7 separate regions of the Homo sapiens genome follow, and all the other regions are linked to region 2. The links come from fine-mapping of genetic effects on plasma protein levels. Region 2 holds a variant in brackets. A gene starts in each other region. All regions are shown on their reverse strands. Distances are between the middles of the regions.

Region 1 (2,998 bases), not on the chromosome of region 2:
CAAAACTCCGTGTCAAAAAAAAAAAAAAAAAAAAAAAGAAAAGAAAAGAAAAAAAAAATTGCCCCCTTCCTCACCTTCAACTCTTTTGCGTGGCAGGTATCTTGTTTTCACTTTCCAGTTCTTCCACCCCAGCCTGTGTCATGAGGTCCGCGATATTCTTTTCCAGATCATCAATGCGACTACTCATATCATCAAGTGCTGAAGTTAAAGACAACGCGTGCCAACATCTCATTGAGCCTTTTTCCTCCCGTCCCTGCAGACTACAGCCTTAAACACAACGACTTTAGGGAAACTGGTCTTCCAATTTTCTTTCGACACTGTTACACGCTGGTGGGTAAGAGTACAGGACTGTGGGGCATGGCTACCCCGCATCGGATTCCAGCCCTGACCCTTACTAGTGATGGAACCCCTAAACCTCAATTTATTCATTTGCTAAAGATGATAACACTACAACCCACTCATAAGGTCATGCTGAGCATCAAAAGACACACACAAAAGCGCTTAGTTCACAGTGCATGGTCCACCACACCAGCTATTAGGATTGGTAGACGTATGCTCCTTGAGCCAGGAGTCTAACTCAGCTTTGCCCCTAGCTCTCGGCGCAGTCCTTCTCAGAAACACAGTACAATCCAAGCTCAAATTCTACAAGTGAATGGCTGAAGCTAGCCTGAAAACTACTCATTTATCCCCACCACTGCCCGGCAAATAGGCTCCAAAGGCCCACAGGAGGCCGACTGCAGATAAAAAGGATATTTCTCCCAATGATCTGGTCAGACATGGTCTGAAATTTATCTTGCATCTGCTGCAGGAGTGTCTGCACCTAAGAAAAACCGAAACAAACAAACACGGTCCACATCGATCCTGAGACAACTTCCTGGGATCAGGACGCAAGCCCTGGTCCCGGGGTTCCAGCCCCATTTCTGCCTCTGGACAGCTGTGCGGCCTTCAGCAAGATCTTCCTTCTCTGGGCTTCCGTTTTCCAACCTGTCCAATTAGACTGCTGGGCTGGGGAGGCCGCTGCGACTCAAAGCTCAGGGTCTTTAGGTTGTTTCTGCCGGGCTGGGGCACCCGGGGGTGTGTGAGGAGTTGAAGGGCGGGGAGGGTGTCAGAGGTAGGCGGGAGGGACCCGGAGGGCGTTCGCGACAGATGAATGGGGCTACTGGAAGGGGTCGGGCTTGGGGGCGCCCGCGGGGAGACTGGCCCGCACCGAGCGCCCCGGGGGTCAAGGTGGCCGGGAGCCTCGGCCAGAGACGCTTCCAGAAACGGGGCCTCGGCAGACGCCACGCGCGGCCGCGGTGGGCGCGCCTCTGTCCAGCAGGGCTTGGCCCGGCGCCGCCCGGGAAGGCCGCGGCCTCCGGCCCTCACAGCCGTCCCTTACCACCGAGGTGAGGTCCTGCACGGTCTTGGGGTCAGTCTCGGCCATCTCCCCGATGCCCAGCTTGGCGGTGATGTCTCAGACCGTAACCTACACTTCCGTTTGTCCGCTCAGTCGCCCCGGGCCGCTGCTTCTCGCGACGAGACTGGCAGCTCGCGGGACCGCGGGGCATTATGGGAGTAGTAGTTTCTCCCGCACCGGAAGGGCCTCGAGGCCGCGCGCTTCCGTTCCAAGGAGCGGCCCCACCCCACTCTCCCCGCCTTCTTTCGCATAGCCCCTCCCCTCCCTCTATGCCCCGCCCCTCACGCAGCGCGCCGTCAGTGGGGTGGAAAGTGAGACCAACTCAGAAATGGAGCAATAGAGGCAGGGAGTGGTCTTGGCCTCTCTTCCAGGCTGTAGTCAGTCGAAAGACGGCTCTGGGGTTTCTTTGGCCTGTCGGGACGAACTTACAGAACTTTTGCCCTTCAACAAGCCCCACTGTACCCTTGTAACTGCCCCCAAGCCAAGGAACATGACCCACCCCTACCCGCCCCGGGAGCCCCATGGCTCCTGTCCTGTTCTGTCATCTCCACCCTATGAAGGTGGCCAGCGTCTGGAGTTTAGCCCAGTAGGTTCATTGTGCCCGTCAGGTTCATATGAGGGGATTCAGACAGGAAGCTGTCCATCATGCCTGGCTTCTTTCACTCCACGCAATGCCTGCTGTTGAGTGGGGAAGGCTTCCGGCATCAGGGTTAGACTGTGGGTTTGGGTGTTGAAGGAGGTGGGCACTGCTGATTTGGAACCTCAAGTTCCAACCCCACAGGTGGTCTTTAGGATTGGGTCTCATGGCAAGGGGATAGGAGAGTCCTTGACTGCGGGCCTGGCATGTTCTGGAAACTTTCACACATCTCATTTAAGGACTGTGCTATGTGAGGGGTCAGCTCCAGTTTGACTTTAGCTAGGGAGAGGCTGTAAGGTGTTAGAGCTGTTACGGGAAAGGGTCCTGATCCAGACCCCAAGAGAGGGGGTTCTTGGATCTCATGCAAGAAAGAATTCAGGGCGAGTCTGTAAAGTGAAAGCAAGTTTAAGAAAATGAAGGAATAAAAGAATGGTTACTCCATAGACAGAGCCCTGAGGGCTGCTGGTTGCTCATTTTTATAGTTATTTCTTGATTATATGCTAAACCAGGGGTGGGTGATTCATGCCTCCCCTTTTTAGACTATATAGCGTAACTTCTTGACGTTGCCATGGCATTTGTAAACTGTCATAGCGGTAATGGGAGTGTAGCAATGAAGACAAGCAGGGTTCACTCTTATTGCCATCTTGGTTTTGGTGGGTTTTGGCCGGCTTCTTTACCGCAAGCTGTTTTATCAGCAAGGTCTTTATGACCTGTACCTTGTGCTGACCTCCTATCCCATCCTGTGACTTAGAATCCTTTAACTGTCTGGGAATGCAGCCCAGTAGTTCTCAGCCTCAGTTTACCCAGCTCCTATTCGAGATGGAGTTGCTCTTGTTCAAACGCCTCTGCCAGACCCACCAGTGTCTCTAACAAACCCGGAATCCAGTTGGCCTTGAGGCATGAGACTTCAACTCCCTTTACCACCCCTTCCCCCTCACTCACACCTTTGCCCCTCACCCTTCACA
Region 2 (4,089 bases):
CTGAGCATTTGCTGTTGTGGGTGCTAAGAACAAAGTCATTGTTTTCAGAATTCAAACATTCTTTCGGGTGAGAGGAGTGGAAGACACAGGTTTTATAAGTAGGGGATCATGTGCAGATAAGTCATTGAAGAAGAAAAAGTCAGGGAAGGCGGGAGGGACCAAGAAGGGATGGGTGAGGATGGCTCCTCTGAGAAGGGGACATGTGAGCTGAGACCTAAGAAAGTAAAACCTAACCATCACAAACCAAAGTCGGCCTCTAAAATGGGATCCCCACCACCAACCCCAAAACCAGATACTACAATGCTCTTGGCCGGGTTTTTAGCCATGTGCTTGGTTAGCTGCTGCTTAACTTTATTCTTAAGGAATCTACATACTGCATTTTTTTAAAGCAGGTTCCCTGGTAAGAAACCCTACTCCTCAGAAACAACAAAAATAGTATGTTCTGTTTTCTCTTTTTTTGAGACAGAGTCTCGCTCTGTTGCCCAGGTTGGAGTGCAGTGGCACCATCTTGGCTCACTGTAACCTCCGCCTCCTGGGTTCAAGTGATTCTCCTGCCTCAGCCTCCCGAGGAGCTGGGAGTACAGGTGCGTGCCACCACATTCGGCTAATTTTTGTATTTTTAGTAGAGACGGGGTTTCACCATGTTGGCCAGGCTGGTCTTGAACTCCTGACCTCAAGTGATCCTCCCACTTCGGCCTCCCAAAGTGCTGGGATTACAGGCGTGAGCCACCACCCCCAGCCCTTACTGTTAAATGACCATGATGAAGCTGATTTCTACAAATACACCAGGAGGAAGAGCTAAGGGGGGAAAAAAATTCCCTGCAAAATAAAACGAAACAAAGCTCCTTGCAATTATGCAAAGCTATAGCACAGCTAAGTTATTCTGAGCTAACTCAACCTAGAGGGGTGACGGCCTGGCAAAGGGGGTCATCCGACCCAGCCAGACAAGCTCCGTCTTTCCCTTCCTGCTTCACTCATTTCTGAAAAGAACAGTTCCAGTTTAAAGTAACCCAGCAAATTCATCCTCAACGGGTGAAACCCCATCCTCGCTTCACCTGACTCAAAGCGTGCGCTGCTTTAATTCAAAACAGCTGACTTCGGAGGCCTACAGTCCTCATTTTTCATCCGTCCCCATCATACCAAAAGCAGACTATGTAAGTAAGAGCGGTGAAAGGCCTTTCTGTGCTGAAAACATATTTTATGTATTGAAAAGTACTTGGTGGCCACGCATCTTAACTCCTGAAGAAGAAAATAGTTATTTCTTTTTATTTCTGCAGATATTTCAAAAATATGATAGGTATTGAATGCTAGGCCTGTGACAGGCAAAATGCCCTGTAGGAGGTGCCCGGGTTTCAGAGTCAAGCACAGCCCCCAATCAGATAAGCAGAGGCCTGGGAGAGGGAGGACATCAGGACCCACGTGACGCTAACACCGGGCGGGGTAAGGGCAGGAACATGGCGCAGGCCCAAAAGTGGCCCGCGGCGGGTGGTACGGGGCAGGACAGAGTCCACCTGCTGGAGAGGATCTGAAGGGCCTCGTCCTAACAGAAACAGGAACCGGAGCTGGGCAGGACTTCAGAGGCTGAAGGATGGGAGAGGGAGGGTGCGCCCAGGAGGAGGCACAGCTTGAGCAGAGGCGTGGCTGCATGACCGCGGAGGGAGGGTTCACACCCGGGGCCTGTGGTACGGCTGGCAGGCGTGGGAGAGCCAAGGTGGGGACACAGAGAGGTCAAGGAGGCCGAGGCCGAAAAGGGACCACAGAATTTGGCTACAAGAAAGCAGTTTCAGTTTAACGATGACAAGGGAGCCCGAGTGAAGAGGAAAACCTGTCAACTCCTCGTGAAAGTCGGGAGGGTTTCTGCGTAGAAAAAAACAGCGTTCAGCAGCTCAGTTGGCTGCCGTGAAGTCATCAGAACTAGAGGAAGAGTTGGA[C/T]TTGCTCTAGTGAGGACAGCTTTTGAAGTCACTAACCACAAGGAGGAAGCCTTCCCCTCTGGGCCTGCAGGAAACAGATTGCGTGGCTTTGTCTGTCCTGGCTGGGGAACGCATGACACGCTGAAGGGTTTTCCAGCTCTAGGGAAGAAAATTCATCTTTCTGTAAAGTCCACTTCGTCTTCCATTATCTACCAGACTTCTTGATGGGACCATTTTTAGAGCCTTCAGTGAAAGAATGGAAAACACTAACTTGGATAAACAATTAAGAGTAGGGAGGGAAATAGGTGAAGACGCAACTCTGATGAAATAAACAAACCGCAACCGTGGAATAACATTCTGGTTATTATGGGTCGTGATTAACGGCTCCCTGCGTTGATGGCTGAAAACTTGTGCTTTACTGCACACTTCCAGCAGAATTTAGCTGCTTTTTTCTTTCTTGTTTCCTTTTTTTTTTTTTTTTTTTTTTTTGAGACAGGGTCTCACTCTGTCACCCAGACTGGAGTGCAATGGCTTGATCATAGCTCACTGCAGCCTTGACCTCCTGCTGGACTCAAGCGATCCTTCAGCCTCAGCCCCCAAGGAGCTGAGACTACAGATGCACGCCACCACACCTGGCCAATTTTTCTTATTTTTTGTACAGACGGGTTCTTGCTATGTTGCCCAGGCTAGTCACAAACTCCTGGGCTCAAGTGATCCTCCCGCCTCAGCCTCCCAACGTGCTGGGATTACAGGCGCTAAACCAGCACTTAAGCTGCATTTTTTTTTTTTTTTTTGAGCTGGAAACTCCTTCTACCGCCCAGGCTGGAGTGCAATGGCACAATCTTGGCTCACTGCAACCTCCGCCTCTCGGGTTCAAGCGATTCCCCTGCCTCAGCCTCCCGAGTAGCTGGGATTACAGGCGTCTGCCACTGCGCCCAGCTAATTTTTGTATTTTTAGTAGAGACGGGGTTTCACCATGTTGGCCAGGCTGGTCTGGAATTCCTGACCTCGTGATCCACCCGCCTTGACCTCCCAAAGTGCTGGGATTACAGGCATGAGCCACCGCGCCCGGCCTTAAGCTGCTTTTTAACACATGGGGAGAACACAGAGAAAGTACCAAAATGAATGTTGTAACTCAATTCTAAAATACGTGAAAATATACTGAAGACTCTTCCATTGCATCATCTTGTAAATTCAGGTGAAATCCTGCCTGTCCCTACCTAGGCCTCATTTTCCTTATCAACCTATGAGAAACGACCAGGCATTTCTTGGGTCCCCAGCACCCTGGAGAAAGAGACCACTCGGAGGACACGGCCCCTCACCTCATGGTCCCCCTGGCAGGCAAGGCCACCGGGCCAATTAATGGAAGTCAGTGACCAGCAACTGGAAGGGCTACAGGGTTTGGGAGGAGATAGAGCCTCTGAGGTTGGAAAGGCGGCCAGGGTTTCACTGGGAGGCAGGGCCTGGGCCAGGCTCCAAGGGACGGGGTCCAGCCCCCAGCAAAGCATCAGCACACACTTCAGCAGGAGGTAAGATGCCACGGCACTGGGGAAATTTTTAAGCAAGAGGGAAGAGGATGCATTAACAGAGAAGAGGGAGGTCACCATTGTGGGGCATTGCAATCCAAATTGAGTCCAGGCCGGGCGAGGTGGCTCACACCTGTCATCCCAGCACTTCGGGAGGCTGAGGTGGGAGGATCACTTGAGGTCAGGAGTTTGAGACCAGCCTGGTGAAACCCCACCTCTACTAAAAATACAAAATTAGCTGGGTGTGGTGGCACATGCCTGTAGTCCCAGCTACTTGGGAGGCTGAGGCACAAGAATCGCTTGAACCCAGGAGGCGGAGGTTGCAGTGAGCCAAGATGATGCCACTGCACTCCAGCCTGGGTGATAGAGTGAGACTTCATCTCAAAAAGAAAAAAAAAGAAAGAAAACTGAGTCCATTTTTAGTCCTTTGAAGTGTGCAGGTGTGTGTGACTAAAAACAGGCAGAACCATCACTGTTGAGAATGGGGTGCCACAGAAATGGGAGACAGGGTGTCATTTCTTACTCCAGCAATCGGAGGAGGCAACTGTTAGGAACAGCCCCCACTGGCTGAGCAGTGGCCAAGAGGCACCTCACTTTATGGAGGGGGTCCCTTCCAAACACTAAGAACTTAGGAAGTTCTCGCCACCCAGAGA
Region 3 (4,000 bases), 41 Mb before region 2:
TGAAACCCTGTCTCTACTAAAAATACAAAAAATTAGCCGAGTGTGGTGCTGCATGCCTGTAGTCCTAGCTACTCGGGAGGCTGAGACAGGAGAATCGCTTGAACCTTGGAGATGGAGGTTGCAGTGAGCTGAGATCATTCCACTGCACTCCAGCCTGGGTGACACAGCAAAGACTCCGTCCAAAAAAAAAAAAAAAAAAAAAAAGGGAGGGAAAAAATGTGTATCTTAGAGTCAGTGAAATACCACACATCTATGGAATGGATGCACTTGGCTTGCAGATGCTATTGGGTGAGAGATTTATAGTTAGAAGAGGGAAGAGCTGGGTCCTGGAAGAACTGGGAGAACTAAGATAGCAGGTGGGATCCTAAAACAGATGAAGTGGGTTGGAAGCAGCCAATGAATCTGAGGTTTGGAAAAATGAGTCTGAAACTCCATTTTTTCTTCTTTTTACTGTAATATTTCCATTACCCAAGACTTTCAGGAAAAACTGGCTACAAGAAAAAGAGCTATACAAATAAAAAAACCTATTTAAGAATGAATCACTTTCGAATACGTCAAAGCAGTAATAACGATCACATATAACACTGCAGCTGGGATACTAACCAGTGGTGCAGCAGATTTCTTCCATTAGTTTACCAGTAGTATTCGCTCCTTAAATCGTTCTCTTCCTCTGGTTTCCATGACAGCATTCTTTGGGAGTCTTCTCTCTGCCTACCCAGTTCCTGTTTTCTTTAGAGGGCCTTTGGCCTGCCCTTAATATTGATATTCCATTAGGGACGCCCCTTCAAAGAGCCTTTCCCTAGACAATCTCACCCATACTTGCAACTTACTGACTTATAGTTCTTAACTCTCTCGAGTTCCAGACTTGAATTTTCAATCAACTCTTTAGTTTTAATCTGAAGCATCACCCCCTCTGCACACCCGCTCCTTCCTCTACTCTGTAGTATGAGAGTCTTAAACGTGAACATTATAAAAGTTTCCAATCATTTAGAATTTCAGGACACAACTGGAAGGGGAGGAGGGGCGAAGGGCACCACGGAGTTCCTACGTCTTAATTCTGTGTCCTTCTGCAGGTTCCCTTTGCGAAGACCTTAATCTTCAGTCTCGAGCAGGAGGCATTACAATGTTCTCCTGGGTGATGACTGCCATGAAATGGAATGACCGGGGCAGAGGCATGGACACTCGGAGCCACAGGAACCCCCTTGTTCTGCCAAAAGTACTCAATTTCCAAACCCTGTATTGACTTCTTTGAAAATCTGGTCATTCTATGCAAAGCCATGCAGATCATGATACAATCGATACAAATCAAATGCACATCAGGCAGAGCACCGAGGTCTGCAGAAGGTCTCGTCGATTTTTAAGGAGACAGAGTATGGTCTTTTTATAGTTTCCCTCATAAGGGAGCCAGAGGAAAGGATGAAGAATCTTCAAGAGAACCCAAGAGCGGGCAGGACTGCAAAGACCTCCCCTTTAGAACCCTCGTGGGTTGAACAAAGGGAGGCTGGGGCAGTCTTTTCCCACGAGAGACAAGGCCAAGAGGTCCGCCCGCGGGCCCTTGCGCGGAGTCAGGCTCGGAGCGGCTCGGGCGGGCGTCCCACCCTTGGCAGGAAGCGCGGACACGGCTGCTTTCCGGGGCTCCGAGGGGAGGGGGCTGCAGGGCCGCACGCCTGGGGGCCACGCTCCCCTTCCCTGGGCTCCCCTAAGGAGCCCTAAGACCGTTCCCTACTTACCTGCGTCCCCTGTCAGCGGCCATCAGCTCCTTGTGCTGGAAGGTGGACCAAGACCCCGCGCTCGGCGCCGCCATTTCCCGCTTTTCCCGGGCTCTCCGCTGCGCACCGCCCACAGCCCAAACAAACCGGGGGCCGTCGCTTCCCCCACATCCCTCCCCTCAGACGCGGACGCACACTGCGCCTGCGCCTGCGCCCTGCCGCGCCCACACACCAGGCCACCCAGTCCCCGGCCCGGTGCGTGCGCAGGCGCAGAGCTCTAGCGGCGGCCGCGCGGTCCAATGGGGTGAAGTGGGGTGCTCGGCGGACAGACAAAAGGAGGGGAAGGAGCGGGGCGGGGCAAAGGGCGGGGAAAGAGCGAGGGCGGGCGGGTGTGCTCCGTTCGGCCTGGGAATCCGATTGGTTATCGATTCCCGCGGAAATCACCCCGGTGCCTCTCGCGCCCCCTGGCCGGCCTATGGCGATAACTTCACGGAGACGGGCGTGGCTGGAGTTTTGCTTTATTGAAGTTGAACGGTTGGGGCCAGGCTGCGAAGGAGACTGAGAGCGCGACAAGGCCCTGGACAGATGCCCGCGCGGGGAAGGAAGGCTGGCTTAGGAGGGGGCGTCAGCTATGGTTTAGCAGCTTCCAGCGACCGAAACCTACATCACAGCCGCAGCACACAATTCCAGGAAACCTGGTGCTCAATATTGGGATCTCAGGAATCAGGACCGGCGGCTGGGGTGAAAGCCTAGCGGTCAGAGCTTAGGAGTGAGGCAGAAGCTGTTAGAGACTCTTCGCAAGTGACCCCGGGGCTACATATGGATGATTCAAGAGGGAGTCTCCTCGCCAGAAAGTTCACATGTTTCACTCCTTCTGGCCTTCATACCAACCCATTGTTAAAACTGGAAGTCCCTCCACCTGGGGTCACTGACTCCACTGTTTTCAGATAGGATGGGGACCCTGCACTGGAGACTGCTCTCTAGCCCCTGGGCAGGAGAGGCACAGACACTGCTACGCACGCGGAGCAGGGATCACCAGCGCTTTGACTGACTTTGCTCGTCCAGGAGGCTGGGGACATGCGTGCCCATGCTCAGCCCACCCCCTCTGTAGACACAATTGGTCGCCCATTCTGTTTATAGGAAGTCTTCCATCCTGCACCAGCAGCTGTCCCTAGACAGGGATTGGGAGACATGCAAGTTGCTTGGCTTCCTATTACCTTGTGTTGAAAACACAATAGGCTTTGGGATCAGGAGTTCATTCCAGTTATTTTAATGTTATTTACTAGCAGTGTGCCCTCGTGCACATTATCAAACTCCTCTGACTCTTGGAATCCTCATTTTTCAATAATAACTCACAAAGCTGTCAAGCCTAAGGGTTCTAACAGCTCGAACAGCACCTGGAACAGAAGCAATAGCCGCCACTCAGAGGTTACTTCTTCCTTCTCCGCCTTCTCTGGATCACCTCCCTACCTCATCCTCAATCTAACGCTGGAAATATTGGATATGGGGTAGGTCACCAAATGTTGCCAGAAGACTCAAATTATGCCACCCATATCTCAGCTGGGAAGGGCTTACCGTGGCCTGACTCTCCTCAGGGTCCAAGTCCCCATTTATGATGTCCAGGCAGAAACACTTGTTTCTGACACATAGTAGGCGCTGGAAAATGTTAGTCAAATGAACGAGGTCTGGTGTGGAGAGAAGAGAAATCTTGGGAGAGTCATTTAAGGGGGTGCCCAGTTGTCCTCATAAAAAACACTATCATCATCAGGGTGACCAAAGCAGACATCATAGGCAGGGGGTGGAGTCAGAGGCTCTAATGTGGGGACTGCCGCCAAGCTCTGCAGATCAGGAGCAGTGGACACAGCCCGTGGTCCCCGAAGCCGAAGGTTGATTGGAGCTCTTCCAGGGCTTCCTTCCTGGGCCATGGACCCCTCTGAGGCCATTCGCCTCTGTTCCAGTTTGGCTCTCCTGGACCCCTCTGGATGGCTAGGTTGTTCCTCCTCAGGTGCTGGGGGTATCACAACAGTGCTGTAGGGGGGTGGTTGGTCCAACTCTTGGGGGCGGCACTGGGATTCTAGTCCCACCACGGCCTCTTCATAGACTGGCACTTCAAAGGCTTCATTGTCCCTGAGGGAAGAGAAATAAGGCCATTGGTGGCTTCCATGAAAGAAGCCCTTTTTCCCTTTTTTTTGTCTGCTGTGGGCAAAAGATCCTCTGTTGGCCTCTGACCCCTCCTCCCGCTGATGCCAATGACAGGAAACCAGAGACTCTCTGCCTCAGAGACTACAGGG
Region 4 (4,089 bases), not on the chromosome of region 2:
AGGCAAAGCAATGTCAGCATCAGAATCACATGTGGACTGAGGCGCACGACTGAAACACCAGGACAGGGGAGTTGAAGCCAGGTAATAAGAAAGGAATTCAAAAGGTAGATAAAGTTCAGAATCCAAGGAGAGGAAGACCAGGTGTGGTAAAGCAACCAGCCTGCCCAGCAAGTCTCCTCGCTCAGGCCGAACACCCAGGGCCAAGCAGCCTTGTGTCAGTCAGGGCTCTGCCCTCCTCTCGCCAGCCCTGTTTCCCTCAAGGAGGCAGGTAGTTGCATCTTCCTCCACTCCCCAGTTCTCTCCATTTGGGTCTGAGGCAAAGCTAACACCCATGAGGGAAATGATTCATGCAATAAATTTTAGGCCGGGCATGGTGGCTCACAGCTATAATCCCAGCACTTTGGGAGGCTGAGGCTGGAGGATCCCTTAAGCCCGGGAGTTTGAGACCTGCCTGGGCAACACAGTGAGATCCCATCTCTACAAAAGACATATTAAAAAAATAGGTGGGTGTGGTGGCTAGTGCCTGGAATCCCAGCTGCTCAGGAGGCTAAGGCAGGAGAATACCTTGAGCCCAGGAGTTCAAGCTCTTAGTGGTCTTTGGATGACTAAACTTCAACACATCTTAGCTCAAAATCTCCGATCACACCACTGCATTCCAGCCCGGGCAACAGAATGACACCCTGTCTCTAAATAAATAAATAAATAAATGTTAATTGTGTAGCTATTATGTGCCAGGCACAATGTGGAAGGAAGGGGATACATTAGTGAATAAAACAGATCCTTCCTGCATGGTACTTAGTTTCTAAATGGAGACACACCATCAACAAGCAACCATAAATACGTTCTTGCAAACTGAGAGAAGTGCTATGAGGAAAATGTACAGGATGCAGGGGTGGAGGATGAGGAGGTCGGCTACCTTAGATGCCGTGGTCACAGAATGGCTCTCTGTAGGAGATTTTGAGCTAAGATATGTTAAAAGTTTAGTCATCCAAAGATCACTAAGATTAGTCTATAGTCTGACAACTTAGTAACTATTGACTTATGGCAGGGCAGAATGGGTGAGGGGAGGGAGGAGTCGTTGGGTTAGGTTCCTCTTGAAGGGCTCTAATAAGACCCTGATAGACCGACCAGGTTACAGTCCGATGGTCATAATCCAGATGAGAGATATCAATCTTTAACTGGGGTCCCGAGCATATGGGGTAGAAATAACAAGGGTTGTTGATGGATTAGATGTGGGATTTGAAGTTTAGGTCTACCAAATCCCTGGGACCCTTGCAGTCAGCTCTTTCTTGGGGAATGGGAAGTGGGTTCCAGCAACCTGAATTCAAGTGCATGACGAAACCAGAAAAAGCAAACGCCAAAATCAAAACTCGGAGCCTCAGAATACCTGCCAATAGATGCATATGCCCCAGCTTTCCGTGGAGGGCAGTTTACCAGAGCCCAGTGCAATTCCTAATTTCCATAAAGAACCCACATACAAATAAAGTCTGTCTAGTTCACTATGGTTAAGGTAGTCAGGAAGTGTGCCACATTTTACAAAATTTTCCACCCAAAATGTTTTTTTTTAATGGTGCTTAAAGGAAAAATTCTCATTTACCTGGAAAACTTAACTCCCCAAAGGGAAGTTTCGTTCAGATAGCTAAAGCATGCCAATCCCAGTCCCCAAGGGAACTGCAACAACGTCTCACCGGGCGCACTGCCTTCAGCAGTCACTTTCGAGTTTGTTGCCAGGTGTCCGAGCGGGTTTGAACGTCCGCGTCAATCCACACAGTACAAACCGGAGGAGGGGCCGGGACCACGCTTCCCCTCCAGGACTGCCTTTTGTACGTGTGTTTTGTTTCTGTTGCTAAGGTTTAGGGAGCTGCCCGGCTACCCTCACGGATTCCCATGGAAACTACCACCTCCCAGAGGACAGGAGGAGAGGCGAATTCAGGGTCCACCCACGGGCCCCGCCCAGGGATGGGGTCACTGAGGGTCCGGGCAGCGAAGGGCGGGGCCCGGGAGCTGGGCATGGGCGAGGCAGGCGCGAGAGGAGAGGGGCGTGGCAGGTCCGGGGCGGGGCCTGAGTGCGCCTGCGCAGTCCGCGCCACTCAGGGAGCCGGAGGGGACGCGCCGGAGGAAAGATGGAAGACTACCAGGCTGCGGAGGAGGTAACCGCCGGGTCGGCGACGGAAGGGTGGAGGCCTAGAGCCCTGGCCGCGGAAGGACACGCGGTCCTGCCCGGAAAGGCCTGGCTGCCCACCTCCTTCAGCTAGGCCAGTCTCGGCAGCCCACGGCCTGAGCTTCCCGGTCGCCGGCGCTCCGCCCGGCCCCATTCTGCCCGGACATTGCCGCCGTTTCCCCGGCGCGGGGGGCGGGAAGGGGATTGAGCTTCTTCCCGCGCGGGGAGGCACCGGGCGTGACTCGGAGAGAGCGCCCCGGTGAGCGGTGCCGAGAAACCTTCCCGCAGGGCCTCGCCTCCGGCCCGCAGCCAAGCTCGCCGAGAGGATGACATCACCGCCCCTTGCTCTGCGGGGCTGACCCCAGCCCCAGCCCCAGCCTGGAGCGGGGCGCGGCGGCCGGGCTGGGAGCGCCGAGGCTTGGACGTCTCCCCGCGGAGGTGCGGGTGACGCTCCCGCCGCCAGCCCCTCCGCCCCGGGCTGGCGTCCCGGCCATCCCGCGCCTTTGTCTCGGGCCTCACCTGGTTCTGCAACGCTGGGAATGAGTAGCACATTTCATTTCCGTTTAATATGTCTGTAAGAAAGCTCATTGTTGTGGGGAAAAAATCATCTTTTATGCCTCCTTGAGGAAGTAGGATAAAGCCCACGATGTCGCCAAGCAGAAGACACCCATCGGCACCGTGTGCGTTAAATGGCTTTCCTTCAAGCTCACGGTCATTCGGGGAATAGAGCTGATGGGCGCAGCTGAGATACAACACTCATTTTCTTCTTACTGAATAATCCTTGTTGAAATTCAGATAGAGCCCTATGGATTTATTATGCAGCCTGTCAAAAATATAAACTATAGATACATTTGGTAAGGTTGGATATCTTACCATTTATGAAATTTAGTGGCTGGGCGCAGTGGCTCACGCCTGTAATCCCAGCACTTTGGGAGGCCTAGGCGGGCGGATCACCTGAGGTCAGGAGTTCGAGAGCAGCCTGACCAACATGGAGAAACCCCGTCTCTTTTAAAAATACAAAATTAGCCGGGCGTGGTGGCGCATGCCTGTAATCCCAGCTATTCGGGAGGCCGAGGCAGGAGAATCCCTTGAACCTGGGAGGCAGAGGTTGCCGTGAGCCAAGATCGCGCCATTGCACTCCAGCCTGGGCAACAAGAGCGAAACTCCGTCTCAAAAACCAAAAAAAAAGAAAAAAATTTCGTTTAAGGAGGAATGTTTTCAGGGAAAATAAAACTAAAACTTAAGGACTGATTCTAGAGTTTCAGTTTTGATCTGATTTCCTAACTAGCACACACTTCCTGTGACAGTGGCATAATCAGTGTTTGAATGCTGATGGCAACCAAGTGAATAATGACGAGAAGAGCTGGTTCAGGAGCAGTTGGCAAAGAAAAAAGCCTTTCCCCTTAAACTGTTACTAATATAATATTGGAAAATGTCTTGTATTACAGTAATATCGAGTAAAACTTCTAAAAAAGAAATCGCTTTGTAAAGGAAAGCGCTTAATACTGCAGTCCGATTCTGACTCCCACAAATAAGGTGGCTAAGTGGCTTCATTATTCGAGATCTCAATCGCATATGTGTAAAATGAAGGGGCTGGACAGAGTGATGAGTGTTCTACCTGGGATGGAGGCCCTGGGAGGTGGAGACCATGGCTGTCTTGTAGTAGGCATGTCTTAGGTATTTACTGAATGGCCCGTTCTGGTCCTCCCACCAGCCTCTTAGCAGCCTTTTCTGCATCTCTTCTAACTTCGTGTAGATGCCTGGGCCTTTGTAACTATTCTCTCAACTCACCATTCATCTTTCTTGGAGACGTTAAAACTATCCACTGGATTCAATACAACTCTGCTTTCCACTAAAAATTCTTTAAAATGTCCCTCAACCTTTTTCGTACTGTAACCATATGGGAGGTGATACAGTGCCTTTCCTTT
Region 5 (4,089 bases), not on the chromosome of region 2:
AATTCCCAAATACACTCGGCTGTTCCTGAGATCACTCCAGTGCCTTCCTCCTTGGCTGATCTCCTTCTGGGCTGCCATCTTCCTCCTTCCACTGCAGAATCTTTACAGAGTGCTTTCATATCTCCCAGAGAAGTCCCCCTTGTAACTCTACTTCCTCAAAGTTTTCTTGGCAATTCTCACATGCATTTTCTTCAATATGAACATTTACAACAATTTTTTCCATTAAGATCTCACTGAGACCCTGGTTGGACATGTGCTCCCTTTGCATATTAATTCGGGAGGATGACCATGTATGGAATTTGGCTATGAAACAAGGCTGGTTTCCAAATGGAGTCCAGCTCGTTTCTATCAGTCTCACAGCCCACACAGGGGGCGGGGCTTTCAGGACATCCTGAGAACTCCAGTGCCGTGCACACCTCTGTCCCAGAAGCATCTAAATCATGAAACAAGCATGGGGTGGGTGGTCTGGGTTCCCCAGGCAGGGGCTGCCTAGAAGAGAGGTACCTTGTGCTGGTCCCGGGAGCCTTCCCTCCAACCTGCTCCCTGGGTCCCTCCACACGCTCTGCTCCTTTGCTGGTCTCCTCTGGCTGAGTCCTCGGCTCTGTCCTTCACTCCTCCTCAGCACCGGCTGTTCTGGGAGCTGACTGGGGCTCCAGAGTACTTGGACTCATGCTTAAACCTCTCGCCTCCTCTGCCCACTCAGACTTTGGCTTCTCTCAAACGCTCACCTTTTCTCCATCCTCTCCCTGCCCTCCCAGACATAGCAACCTGCAAAGCTATACCCAAATAAAGGCGCAGCCATACCCAGAGCCGAAATAAACAGCGACTTAGCTCCTTCTGGGCACTCCTGTAGGACACAGTCAGCTTCCCCTAAGTAGGAATGGTTAGAAATTGGCATCAGAAGATCTAAGTTTGGGCCCTGGCCACTTATTAATGAGGAGCTCCTGGGCAAGTCCTTTACTTGCTCTCACTTTCCATTTCTTTCATTTGTGAAATGGAGCTGATAACTTTCTGGTAAGGTGGTTCTGAACCAACTATAGTCAGGCACCATGCCAGGCGTGAGGATTTAACCAAGATGAAACAGACCCACTCCCCGCCATCATTACACACACCGAGGCATTGAGAGGAATTCCTATTTCCCAGGTCTCAGTTTGCTGTCGGCTCTCGGCCTCAGTTCTGGCTGAAGCAGACCTAGAGTCTGATTCTGGCAAGTGGTTTAACCCCAACACACGGTTTCCTTATCTGTGAAGGGGGCTTCTTAACCCCCAAGGAAGCCATCAGTGTCATTTGGGGATAAACACTCTTTTGCCATCACCCCTCCGTCTCTAGGCTGTTCTGCCAGGAGCAGGTCCTGCCCTGGGCTGTGGAATCTGGGGCTCAGAAGCTGCCAGGTACCCACCTCCTGCCCTCCTTGCACTGCCTGCCTCTGCCTTTTCCTCACCATGCCTGGCCCTAGCAGGCTGGCTCTACACGGTCACATATGTGACTCCCCTGGCTTTTGGAGGTGCAGACCTTTGTCCCTTCCCCTTGGTGTACCCTGGGGTGCAGGTGGAAGAGAGAGAGACTCTGGGGTGCCCACATCACCCCCACCCTGGAACAGCAGGCTTCATAGGCAGGACCCAAGTATGGACACTCTGCAGACTGCAGAGGGCTGTGCAGACCGGAGGTGACAGCAGTTGGGGTTAGACATCACCCTGAGCACTGTTTGCTCAATAAGGAGCTTTTGTTGAAAGCTGGCATTTTTCTTTCCAATTTTTTTTGGCTTTTTCCATCTCCCATCTTCGCAGCATCTCCAATGCTTGGAGTCTTGGAGTTTTCAAACTCAGAGACTCTAGAAGTCACCTAACAACTTCGTCGCTTTACGCTGCTCCTGGAGGGTGAGTGACCCACCCGAGGCCACACAGCCAGGTTAGGCGAAGACGGGTCTGGAGCCCGGGCCCCTGACTCCCAGTTCTGCTGAGGGCCCCGTTCTTTCTGCACTGTTTCAGGTGGGGAGAGAGGGCAGGCTGGACCTGTGCAGTTTGTTTCCCCAAGTGTCGCACCGTCCTCCTCACCCTGCCAGCTTCAGCCAACCTGGGCAGCTGACTCCTCACCCTGGGCTCTGTCCTTGCCCTGTAAGTGGCCACCTTCCAGCCCCAAACCTTCCTGGCCCTTTTCATCCTGCCCACCAGCCCCCATGTAGCAGGACCCAGTAGAGAAGGGAGCTGGGTCTCCCTCTGAGCCCCTCCAGGCAGGACTCACCGTGGCCAGGACGGTGCTGGCGGCTGCTGCTGTCACTGCTGCCAGCGTCCAGGGCAGGAACCACCTCATGCCTGGACGTCAGTGGCACAGGCATCGACCGAGCAGCCCAGAGGATCCGACCACCTCTCGGGGGAGCTGGGCCCAGACTGGCCGGCCCATCAGGAGCACCAGATATGCCTCTTCCGCAGCCCTTGGGGGGTTTTATTAAAGCAAGATCTGACGTCAGGGTGAAGGACAAACCCTGCATTTTCCTCTGAAAAAACTTTTCCTGCCTCTCTCTCTTTTTTTTTTTTCTTTCTTCCCTCTGTCCCCACCTCCAGCCTGAGCTTGGCCAGCCTCCCCAGCTCTGACAGTTCTTAAAGGGAAAGTTACAAGGCTATGACTTCACACTAGGGTGTGAAATTCTCACAGAGGAGCTGGGGTCATCCTGCCTAGGTCTTTCACTACTGTAGGGAGGGGGGAGCATGGGAGGGTGCAGGATGTCCGAGGAGATACTGTTACCCCAGGCAGGCGGGTGTGTGGGCTTTGAGAGGGCTCCCAGTGGGAAATCAACTCCCTGTCATTTCTTCAGGCTGCTCCTACTTCTGGTTTTCTTTTTCCTTTTCTTTTTCTTTTTCTTTTCTTTTCTTTTTTTTTTTTTTTTTTTTTTTTTTTGAGACAGAGTCTCGCTCTGTCGGCCAGGCTGGAGTGCAGTGGCGCGATCTCTGCTCACTGCAACCTCTGTCTCCCAGGCTCAAGCAATTCTCCTGCCTCAGCCTCCTGAATAGCTGAGATTACAGGCATGTGCCACCACACCCAGCTGATTTTTGTATTTTTAGTAGAGACGAGGTTTCACCATGTTGGCCAGGCTGGTCTCAAACTCCTGACCTCAGGTAATCCGCCCACATCAGCCTCCCAAAGTGCTGGGATTACAGGCGTGAGGCATTGCGCCCAACCCTACTTCTGGTTTTCATTTGCCCTCTTGCACTCCCCTCTACCTAGCTGCAAGCGAAAGAGGTGGCTTTCAGTCCACCCATCTAGAGATGATAGGAATTCACAAATAAAATGAGCTCTGAGGCTCAGGTTACAGCATCACCTTCATGACACGTGAAAGCCACGGTAACGCATTTGCTGTTTGCCGTCTCTGCTCATTGGTCAGAAGCCGTTTGGTGCTGGAGCTGTCCCCACGTGTCTCTGGATGCTTGCTATCCCTGGGGGGTTGGGTTTCCTGGCCTGTACCCTTATTGCACTGCTGCCACTGAGTCTCTTCCTTGGGCAAGAAAGGAGATGGGATGTCTTCTATGGGCTGTCCTAGTCCAGCCCTGTGCTCCCCATGGGGACCGCTGCCACAGCCTCCTGACTGATACCCAGCCTCCCTGCCCACCTTCTACCATCCACACATCTCAGAGCAATCCTTGAACTAGCGTCATGTATAGATCATCTTCTGGATACAACTGTCCAAAGCCTGCCCATCACACAGCACAGAGTCCCCAGTCCTGGCGTGGCCCCTGGGCCAGCCAGCTCCCTGTACACTTCTTCCTCTCTCCCTTTCGTGCACCATGCCCAACCACAATGGCCTCCTTGCAACTCCTCTCACACCTTGGCAAGTTCTCAGCATCTCCAGGTCTCAGTAGGAATACTCGACACTGAGGTTTAAATGACAGTTACTCCTTCTCTTCTCTTTTCCTGTAGCTTATTAACAAGGGATGCTGAAGCATGTGTGGCTGCTTGGAGGTAGCAGCAGGCTTGTGTTCATGGAAGAGGTTTATGATCCCTATAGACATGACCCCAGAAGAGATGGTGCTCATGATTTCTCCATTTACTGACCTGGGGATGTGCCTCTGATCCAATTCCGGCCAATGAGACATA
Region 6 (4,081 bases), not on the chromosome of region 2:
GTGGTTCTGAGACTGATGGCCGGGAAGGGAGTGGGAGGTCAAAGGTTTTCAAGGGCCCTTTTCCCAGGAGGCCAGTGCTGTGTCGGGGGATGGGGTCTCACCTGCCTGCGCTCCGTCCTGTCCAGGTCGTGGATGAACTGTAAAGTACAGGAAAAGGCTGGTGAGACCTGCCCTGACCCTCTGCCACCTGCCCCTCTCCTCCTGGGTATGGCTCACCCATCACCCACCTTCATAATGGGCTGCGATCGCTCTTCGAGCCCGTGTTTTCCGGCCTTTAGGTGCTGAGGATCAAGGAAAGACAGATGAGCAAAGCGGGCCCTAGTGGGGGTCCCAGAGCAACTCTCCCAGCCCCATTCCCCTCTCAGGAACCCTGGCATCCTTATTCTTGTCCAGACTCCTGGCCTTAGAATCTCAGGCCTCATCTTCCTCAGTAAGTAGAGTGACTATAATTTGTCATCCACACTGGGATACTGCTGAGAGCAAAACGGGAAGCTGCTATTAATCACACCGAGATAACAGGTGGGGGCCAGGACAACTGCATGCCGACTTGGACACGTGGTCATCCGGCCACCCCATCATCCCATTCCTAAGTCTCTTTGCCTACCGGGGCCCAGGCCTCTGACTGCCAGGCCTAGTCTCCATCAGGATCCCAGTAGTTCTTCTAACTCATGGCCACCCTGCCTTCCTGTTTGGGGTAGGGTCTGAAGGAGCACATCCATATGACAGAAGGAGCTTCAGAGGAGGGCGAGAATCCCTAGGTTTGAGTCTTGGCTGGTTAGCTGCATGACTCTGAACTCCTTTCACCCTCCGTGCCTCAGTTTCTCCCTGTGGATAATGGTTTTTGCTCTGCCCGCTTCCTGAGGTTGGGATAGAGGGATGCTCACCACTTCTGCGAGGCCGAACTAGTCGGTTCAGGAAAGGCGCAGGATCCTGGCTTTCTTCTGTCTGGGGATTCAGTTCCTAGGGGAATTAGGGCAGGGTTCAACCACAGACTCCCAGAGATATAAAGTGAGACATACGGGGCCTGTCAGGAGAGCCACCAGCCAGCAATAGACACAGAAGTCAGGGACAGATTAAGCCCCTCAGCCAACTACAGCTGGGGCCCCGGGCAAAGGTGAAGCTGGGAGTCAGGCCCCAGTCCTCACCCTTTCCTCTAGACCAGCTACACTTTCCCACCCACACACACAACCAACGCAGACCCTGCATTCAATTGGCACATTGCACACATGCCCGCACCCAGTCACCACGCACAGAGGATACACACCCTGTACACAACCGCACCCCTCTTCCACGCAGACTCACATATCTTATACAACCACGTCACCCCCAGCCAATAAACACCTCAGACTCAGGTGGCACAACCCCAGCACAAACCCCTCACACAGAGTTGTCACCACGCACACACACCCCTGCAGACACGCACCCATGCACGCACTGTGTTCACACACACCCTGCACACACCTCGAGTACGGCTGGCACAGCTGCACACACCTGCAGCCTCGGCTGTGCACACTTCCCATGCCCCAGCAGCCTGCAGACCGCGCCCACGCCCACTCACCGACGGGTCCTGGTCCTCCTCTGCCACCAGCTCCTCCTGGGCAGGCTCCTGCTGGGAAGGAGGGAGCGTCACCCTGTGCCGCTCCACCTGACATCTCACCCTCCACCCATCCTCCCTTCCCCTTGCCTTCAGCCCACGCGGCCCCCAGCGGCCCCTCTGCAGTCTCAGCTCCTGATGTGCCCAAGAAGGGGTGCGCAGCGGGGCCTCACCTGGGCGGACAGCGATGCCCGGCTCCCCAAACTGACCACGGCCAGCAGGAGGCCGAGGCAGGCCAGCGCCAGGCCCAGGCCCAGCGCGAGCGGGACCAGCAGGGCGGTGCCCGGCTCCCCCCGGCGCCCCCTCCGCCTCTGGCTCCGACGGGCGGCCATGGGGGCGGGGGGCTGTGCCTGCCTCACCGCCCCCCCATCCCGGGACCCGAGGGATCGGGGGAGGGGGAGCCGGCGGGCGGATCGGGCCGGGGAGAGGGAGGGGCAAGGGAAACGGGGCGGGAGGGGGCGCTGGGGACAGGAAGCCGGACGCTGTGTGTGATCAAACTCCGAGCCTCTCGCCGGGCGCTGTGCGCGCAGCGAACGGAGTGGGCGCCCACCCGACCTCTGAGCGCCCAGCCCGGGCGTGCACCACCAGGGCGAGGTCCGTTGCGTGCGGCCGCGGGAGCGACGGGGCTATGCGTGTGCGGGCACCTCCTGCGGGGAGGTGGGGAACTCAGGAAGGCCTGTTGGTTCAGATTCTTCTGTGTCCCTGTGTCTTCAGAGATAAGGACCCTCCTTTCCCCCAGGTGCAGGGAGGGCGCCTCTCGCAGGAGGCTGTTATTTGCTTCTTCAGGAAAAGGGCAGGGAGTTCCAGGTTGTATGACCTGGTTCAGGGAAGAAGGGCAGGAGAAGGTAAGAAAGATCCTTCGGCTTCTGCGGTTTTCTCAAATTCCTTCAGCTTAAAACACTCACTGTGCCGGTAGCACGTTCTGAAGCCCATCATTACCAATGATTGCCAAGCATCTGAGGAGGACCAGCAGCATGCAAAAGAAACACCAAAATTGGTCCGGCAGGTGGCTTACGCCTGTAATCCCAGAAGGCCAAGGCTGGGGGCCAGGAGTTCAAGATCAGCCTGGGCAAGAGCAAGACCCCATCTCTACAGAAAAGTTTTAAAAAATTAGCCCACGCCTGTAGTCCCAGCTACTCAGGAGGCCGAGGTAGGAGGATTGTTTGAGCCCAGGAGTTTGAGGCTGCAGTGAGCTGTGATTGCACCACTACACTCCAGCCTGGGCAACAGACCTTGTCTCAAAAAGAAAGAAAGAAAGGAAGAAAGAAAGAAAGGAGGGAGGGAGGGAGGGAGGGAAGGAGGGAAGGAAGGAAGGAAGGAAGGAAGGAAGGAAGGAAGGAAGGAAGGACCAAAATTGGCTGGGCGCGATGGTTCACGCCTGTAATCGCAGCACTTTGGGAGGCTGAGGCGGGTGGATCACGAGGTCAGGAGATCGAGACCTGCCTGGCCAAGATGGTGAAACCCTGTCTCTAATAAAAATACAAAAAAATTAGCCGGACGTGGTGGCAGGCGCCTGTAGTTCCCAGCTACTCGGGAAGCTGAGGCAGAGAATTGCTTGAACCCAGGAGACAGAGGTTGCAGAGAGCTGAGATCACGCCACCACACTCCAGCCTGGGCAACACAGCAAGACCCTATCTCAAAAAAAAAAAAAAAGAAAGAAAGACCAAAATTAACAAACAAAATTTGACATTGGAGGAAACAGAGATAATTCAGGATACAAAGAGTACTACCTAATATACTTAAAGAGAGTCAAGAAAAAGCATCCATAGAGCTGGGCATGGTGGTGCATGCCTGTAGTCCCAGCTACTCAGGAGGTTGAGATGGGAGGATCACCTGAGCCTGGGAGGTTGAGGCTGCAGTGAGCTGTGATCACACCACTGCATTCCAACACGAGCAACAGAGTAAGACCCTGTCAAAAAAAAAAAAAAAAAAAAGAGTATGCAAAGAAAGAAAAGCAGTTAGAATCTCCAGAAAATTTTCAAAACTGAAATCACAATGTAAATAAGAAACAGCTGGGGCCAGTTGTGGTGGCTCACGCCTGTAATCCCAGCACTTTGGGAGGCCAAGGTCGGTGGATCACAAGGTCAGGAGTTCAAGACTAGCCTGGCCAAGATGGTGAAACCCTGTCTCTACTAAAAAAACAAAAATTAGCTGGGCACGGTGGCGGGCACCTGTAATCTCAGCTACTCGGGAGGCTGAGGCAGAGAATTGCTTGAACCCGGGAGGTGGAGGTTGCAATGAGCCGAGATCGCATGACTGCACTCCAGCCTGGGCGACAGAGCAAGACTCCATCTCAAAAAAAAAAAAAAAAAAAAAAAAAAAAGCAACAAAACAGGCTGGGCATCATGGTGTGCACCTGTAGTCCCAGCTACTGGGGAAACTGAGGCAGGAGGATCGCTTGAGCCCAGGAATTCCAGGTTGCCATGAGCTATGATCTGGGCACTGAACTCCAGCTTGGGCTGCAGAGGAAGACCCTGTCTCAAAAAA
Region 7 (4,079 bases), not on the chromosome of region 2:
CTCATAGGCCTCTCCTCCCCCATCAAAATCTGCTCTCATGCTCATAATAACTTTCAGCCCAAAGAAAACTCAGAAACGCAAACCCTTGTTTTAGAAACAATTAAAAATAGCCTCCTTTATTGGCCTTCCTGCCTTAGACTTCAGCCATATTTTAATTTCCAGTAAGAGCTCAGTGAATACTGTTGAACCTAAGGAGTGCTCCTTTGAAGGGGTGGTAATGGCATAGGGGTTGATCTCGGATGAGCCCAGGAGTAGCCGCGGCGGTTCGCGCCGGCCAGCCCCACTCCGCGGGAAAGCCTGTGTGCTATTCCCGCCAGGGCCGGGAGGGGGCGCCGGCCTCCAGGAAATCACGCGCGGAGTGGGAGGTGCGTGGGCAGAGCCTCGGACCGCTGGAGGGAGTAGTGATGAGTCAGTTTCCTGCAAGGCGCTGCTCGCCCGCCAAAACTGCTTCCACTCCGGCTGCGCGTCACCCTGGGGTGGGGAGGGGGAGAATGGGAGGGGACCGGGGGGCCGCGAACACGTCACGCTGAGCCGGCCAGGCTTCCGAAACTCCCGCCGCTGTTGGGAAACCGCGCGCTCTTGTGCCGTCTCTGACACAGACACACACACACACACACACACACACACACACACACACGCCCGCGCAGACACGCACGCGCGCGCGCGCCGGGAGCCGGCCCCTCCACCTTATCTCCACGCCCAAAGCACGGGATGAGTCAGATCCCTGGAAAATAAAAATAGACGGGAGCAACGAAAACAAAACCGCTCGCAAGTCCTCCCAGAAACGCGACGTGGAGGGAGGCAAGGAGAGGGGAAGCTGCCTGGGCGCCCCAAGTTCCTAACCCAGCTCCAAGATGCTTTTCCTCACGAAGAGGGCGCAAGTGTCCCCCAGGGGTTTGGGACGGAGAGGACGCGCTGTGGTCCGCGCCAGGCGGCGGCGCCCCAGGGGGCGACTCGCCCCCCTGCTCCGCTCAGCCCTGTAGCTTTCGGAGAGGGAATCTGGGCTAGGTCGGGAAGCCCTGAGCCCCCGAGGCAGCTGATAGAGGCCCTGAGCAGCGTCGTGCCCCCCAGACCCCCCACCCCTCAAAGACATGAACCCTCCCCGCCTCCCATCCAGGCGTGGGCTCCGCTCCCGCCCCGGAGTCCAGCGCCCCGACCCGAGGACAGGCTGGGCCGCGATTCTCCCGGCCGCGGTGGGAAAGAGGTAGAGGAGACCCTTGCCCTTCCCCGACTGACAGGCTGGTTAGAGCCCGCCCAGAGCAGGGCCGTGACTCCCCGACCCCTACAGCGCGCCGCGGAGCGGGGACCCGACGCGGTGTCCCGGACCTCCAGTGCCCGGCTTCCTTGGGAACAAACTGTTCCAGCCAAATAGGTCACTGTGCCGATGGGAGGACGGAGACCGCGAAGGGGCAGGGGAGAGGGCTTCTGGAGTCCCGCTGTACCCCATCCCGGGCGGGGTTCTGACCTCATACAGTCCGTTCCCTGGGGTCTCCTTGTCACAGTGAGTCACCTCCTCGCTAGTCCTTAGGGGACGGGTCCTGGCACATTCCCAAGGGCCAGGAAACAGCCCGCGCTGACCTCAGCGCTCAGCCAGGTGGTGGACACAGTGGCGTAAAGGACCTGAACCTGGGACCTGGGCCAGGGCGGCGCAGATTGGATCCCAGAGCCACCCGGGACCGATCCTAGACGAACTTACTCCACTCCGCTTTCCTCGCCCTTCCTGGGCCCCTCCAGGGACACGGACTTCATCCCCACGCCGCGAGCAAACTGCGCCTGGGGCCTGGAGCCAACCGCAGCCAAAGGCGAGCTCCCAGAACGGTCCCGTCCACGCCCTCCCTCGCCCCAGCTGGGTTTCCAGGGGCGGGGAGCGTGACCAGGGATTCCTGTACTTGTAATCCCGCTCTCCGCCCCGGGGTCTCCGGCACATCCCGACTCTCGTCACCCGCGCACTTAGAGACACCGTGTGCGCAAGCCGAGCGCGCACCGACCCACGCCCGTCATTCACCTGCCGCAGAAACACCTGTGAACGCAGCACACACCCGCGAACACGCATCCTCGCGGACACGCAGGGACACACGCGGGCACGCTTGGCTCGGCTCTGGGCCGCCGGCCCGGGGTCCCCTGTTGTCTGCCGCCGCTCTCTCACCTCCTCTGAGTGCCTCGGTGCCTCGGCGAATCCGCGCCCAGCTCCGGCTCCACAAGGAACTGACTTCGGCAGCTGCTCACACCTCAGCTGGCGCAGCTCAGCGCGGCCCTGATATACAACCGCCCCGCCCGGGCCCGCCTCAAGGAGGCGGGACCCGCGCTCGGCCCACCGCGCCGCCCGGGACCGCCCTCCCCGGGGCCCAGGCTCCTGGCTGCCCAGCGCCGAGCCAGCTGAGCCTGGCCGAGTTCCAGCAGGCCAGCCGGTCCCGGAACCTCGCGTGCTGCAGGAGGGCACTTCCCTCCTCCCCCAGTCCCTCGCCTGCGTTGGTGCGCTGGACACATTTCCCCACGAAGTGAGCCACAAATCTGGCTTTTTTTACTTGGAGAATGAGTTGGCACTCTCCAGGAGGACACAGCACTGTTAGAATGAGCCCCCTTTCTGGCTCACCGCTGACCCACTCTGGCAGGCAAGGATTTACCCAATGCAGCTGAAAAGATCAGGAGGATGACATTAATACATAAAAATTCATAAATTATAAAAACGATGCACCTCTCTGCAATTTCCAGAAAAGCCCCACAATATCACCTCTATTCCCACTGATCCCTCACTAGGTCACCTCTCCCAGAAGCACCTGGAGCACCTAGACACCCCAACAAAGCATCTTGAGGCCAGAATGATTTTTCAGTCCCGTTTATTTCACAGATGAGGAAATTGAGGTCCACTGAACTTAAGTATACAAAGTTGTTGATTGTCACATGCTTCCGGGAAGGAGGGAATTGGAGAGACTACCAAAAAAGGGCAACCTGATCTCCAGGGAAACAGAAGAATTGGACATTGAACCAATCTCCCTACACCCTACACTCACCTGAACAGAAGAAATCCCTGTGGTTGCAGCAGCTTTGTTGGCCAGGAAGGGGAGGATTTGACGAGTGAGTTGTCTGTCTCCTGAATACTCCCCACATAGCCCGTATACACTGCTGGGGAAACTGGGGCTCAGAGAAGTCTGGTGACCTAACTCAGATCATGCAGCAAAGAAATGACTATAGTTGGAACACAGGACTTTTGCCTCCTGCCCGGGGCTCTCTGCTTGTCATCCTTTATTTCTGTGGCTCCAAAATGACAAAAATGCCAAATAACCCTCATTTGCAGATGGTTTATGGAGATGACATAAATAAAGGACAATTCTGGAAGTGTCTACTGGTTCTTCTGACAGACACAGAAATGAGTGATGTGTCTATCCGCTCCCATCTACCTCACACCCCTGACCTCCCCTGGACTTCACCTTTGCCTCCTTTCTGTGCCTGAAACATTTGCAGTTTTGCTTTTAAAAAATTGCAGAGGATGGATTGTTCATCTGAACAGAAATCCCACTAAAAAACAGAACCCAGGCTTGGAGCAGCTACAATTACTGACATCTCAGGCTGCTCAGAGTCTGGAAATCTCTGCCCAGACATGCCCAGTCTTCTTCCTCTAACGCAGCTGACCTCGGGGAGGACAGGCTTCTTTCTCCTCTGCTGTGGGGATGGGAGCCCAGGTAGGGGTGGGAGGACACAGTAGCAGACCCCCTTGGCCTGCCTCGCCCTGGAGTCAGGCCAGGATTGTGGCTAAACCCCAGAAAGGCCACGGCACAGCCTCAGGACCCCACTCTAAGCCCCACTGCTGTCTGCACCTTCGCTCCTATACATCCAAACCATCCAAAGGGCTGGTTGTCAAATGTCCAGCAGAGGACAGGCACCTTCTCCCACTGCCTTGAAGCCCCTCTGCTTTCAGGCATTTCAAATAGACTAGACATTGTCTGTCTGTTTACTTTGGGGAGAAAATTTTTTTTAATAAAGGCTTGTAATGAATTATTTAAATTTTTGTGGTACTGAGCTTCACAATGAAATAATTCTTTTTGTTGTTGTTTTTGGGAAAGAATTTTTTTTATAACTTC

Alleles and levels. Positions count from the first base shown, and alleles are read on the strand shown. Strength reflects both the effect of a copy and how common the allele is.
For the plasma level of the protein whose gene starts at base 1,522 in region 1, allele T in region 2 goes with a lower level than allele C (weak association).
As copies of C replace T in region 2, the plasma level of the protein whose gene starts at base 1,909 in region 3 goes down (weak association).
As copies of T replace C in region 2, the plasma level of the protein whose gene starts at base 2,089 in region 4 goes up (weak association).
With allele T in place of C in region 2, the plasma level of the protein whose gene starts at base 2,416 in region 5 is higher (weak association).
As copies of C replace T in region 2, the plasma level of the protein whose gene starts at base 2,022 in region 6 goes down (weak association).
In carriers of allele C in region 2, the plasma level of the protein whose gene starts at base 2,231 in region 7 tends to be higher than with T alone (weak association).

What was found. PIP is the chance, under the fine-mapping model, that this variant and not a neighbour inherited with it causes the effect. The UK Biobank Pharma Proteomics Project read protein levels with antibody pairs (Olink). The fine-mapping took linkage between variants from a reference panel, not from the people measured, so its PIPs are less certain.
Region 1: HSBP1 starts here. The variant in region 2 is fine-mapped to the plasma level of the HSBP1 protein (UK Biobank, PIP 0.98).
Region 3: it holds the start of CASP2, and the variant in region 2 is fine-mapped to the plasma level of the CASP2 protein (UK Biobank, PIP 0.96).
Region 4: it holds the start of DYNLT1, and the variant in region 2 is fine-mapped to the plasma level of the DYNLT1 protein (UK Biobank, PIP above 0.99).
Region 5: it holds the start of CCN4, and the variant in region 2 is fine-mapped to the plasma level of the CCN4 protein (UK Biobank, PIP above 0.99).
Region 6: it holds the start of TNFSF12, and the variant in region 2 is fine-mapped to the plasma level of the TNFSF12 protein (UK Biobank, PIP 0.97).
Region 7: CDKN1A starts here. The variant in region 2 is fine-mapped to the plasma level of the CDKN1A protein (UK Biobank, PIP 0.95).

What each region holds. Positions count from the first base shown.
Region 1 is chr16:83,806,502-83,809,499 of GRCh38, reverse strand. It overlaps HSBP1 (heat shock factor binding protein 1), which reads right to left and starts at 1,522. Exons shown (of 4, transcript NM_001537.4): 1 at 1,379-1,522; 2 at 754-820; 3 at 75-195. The coding sequence starts at 1,423. The coding sequence ends at 77. RefSeq lists silencers at 1,086-1,375, 1,393-1,569 and an enhancer at 1,227-1,728.
Region 2 is chr7:101,854,493-101,858,581 of GRCh38, reverse strand. The region is part of intron 1 of CUX1 (cut like homeobox 1); the gene reads right to left. Among named protein-coding and RNA genes, the nearest start is that of CUX1, 39 kb to the right of the region's middle. RefSeq lists an enhancer at 1,531-1,660. The variant C/T (reference allele first, on the strand shown) is at 1,932.
Region 3 is chr7:143,286,260-143,290,259 of GRCh38, reverse strand. It overlaps CASP2 (caspase 2), which reads right to left and starts at 1,909. Exons shown (of 11, transcript NM_032982.4): 1 at 1,731-1,909. The coding sequence starts at 1,804. It overlaps TMEM139 (transmembrane protein 139), which reads right to left. Exons shown (of 3, transcript NM_001282876.2): 3 at 2,212-3,836. The coding sequence ends at 3,431. TMEM139-AS1 (TMEM139 antisense RNA 1) reads left to right here and starts at 3,926. Exons shown (of 3, transcript NR_133932.1): 1 at 3,926-4,000. RefSeq lists a silencer at 1,533-2,282.
Region 4 is chr6:158,642,743-158,646,831 of GRCh38, reverse strand. It overlaps DYNLT1 (dynein light chain Tctex-type 1), which reads left to right and starts at 2,089. Exons shown (of 5, transcript NM_006519.4): 1 at 2,089-2,150. The coding sequence starts at 2,124. It also overlaps a transcript of SYTL3 not described here. RefSeq lists silencers at 1,932-2,161, 2,322-2,651 and an enhancer at 1,775-2,718.
Region 5 is chr8:133,189,366-133,193,454 of GRCh38, reverse strand. It overlaps CCN4 (cellular communication network factor 4), which reads right to left and starts at 2,416. Exons shown (of 5, transcript NM_003882.4): 1 at 2,242-2,416. The coding sequence starts at 2,310. RefSeq lists a silencer at 1,297-1,544.
Region 6 is chr17:7,546,999-7,551,079 of GRCh38, reverse strand. It overlaps TNFSF12 (TNF superfamily member 12), which reads right to left and starts at 2,022. Exons shown (of 7, transcript NM_003809.3): 1 at 1,768-2,022; 2 at 1,559-1,606; 3 at 885-960; 4 at 228-281; 5 at 102-137. The coding sequence starts at 1,926. TNFSF12-TNFSF13 (TNFSF12-TNFSF13 readthrough) reads right to left here and starts at 2,022. Exons shown (of 11, transcript NM_172089.4): 1 at 1,768-2,022; 2 at 1,559-1,606; 3 at 885-960; 4 at 228-281; 5 at 102-137. The coding sequence starts at 1,926. RefSeq lists silencers at 1,828-1,907, 1,938-2,127.
Region 7 is chr6:36,676,866-36,680,944 of GRCh38, reverse strand. CDKN1A (cyclin dependent kinase inhibitor 1A) reads right to left here and starts at 2,231. Exons shown (of 3, transcript NM_000389.5): 1 at 2,147-2,231. It overlaps DINOL (damage induced long noncoding RNA), which reads left to right and starts at 2,386. Exons shown (of 1, transcript NR_144384.1): 1 at 2,386-3,336. RefSeq lists silencers at 229-618, 2,189-2,418 and enhancers at 1,350-1,937, 1,949-2,138, 3,331-4,079.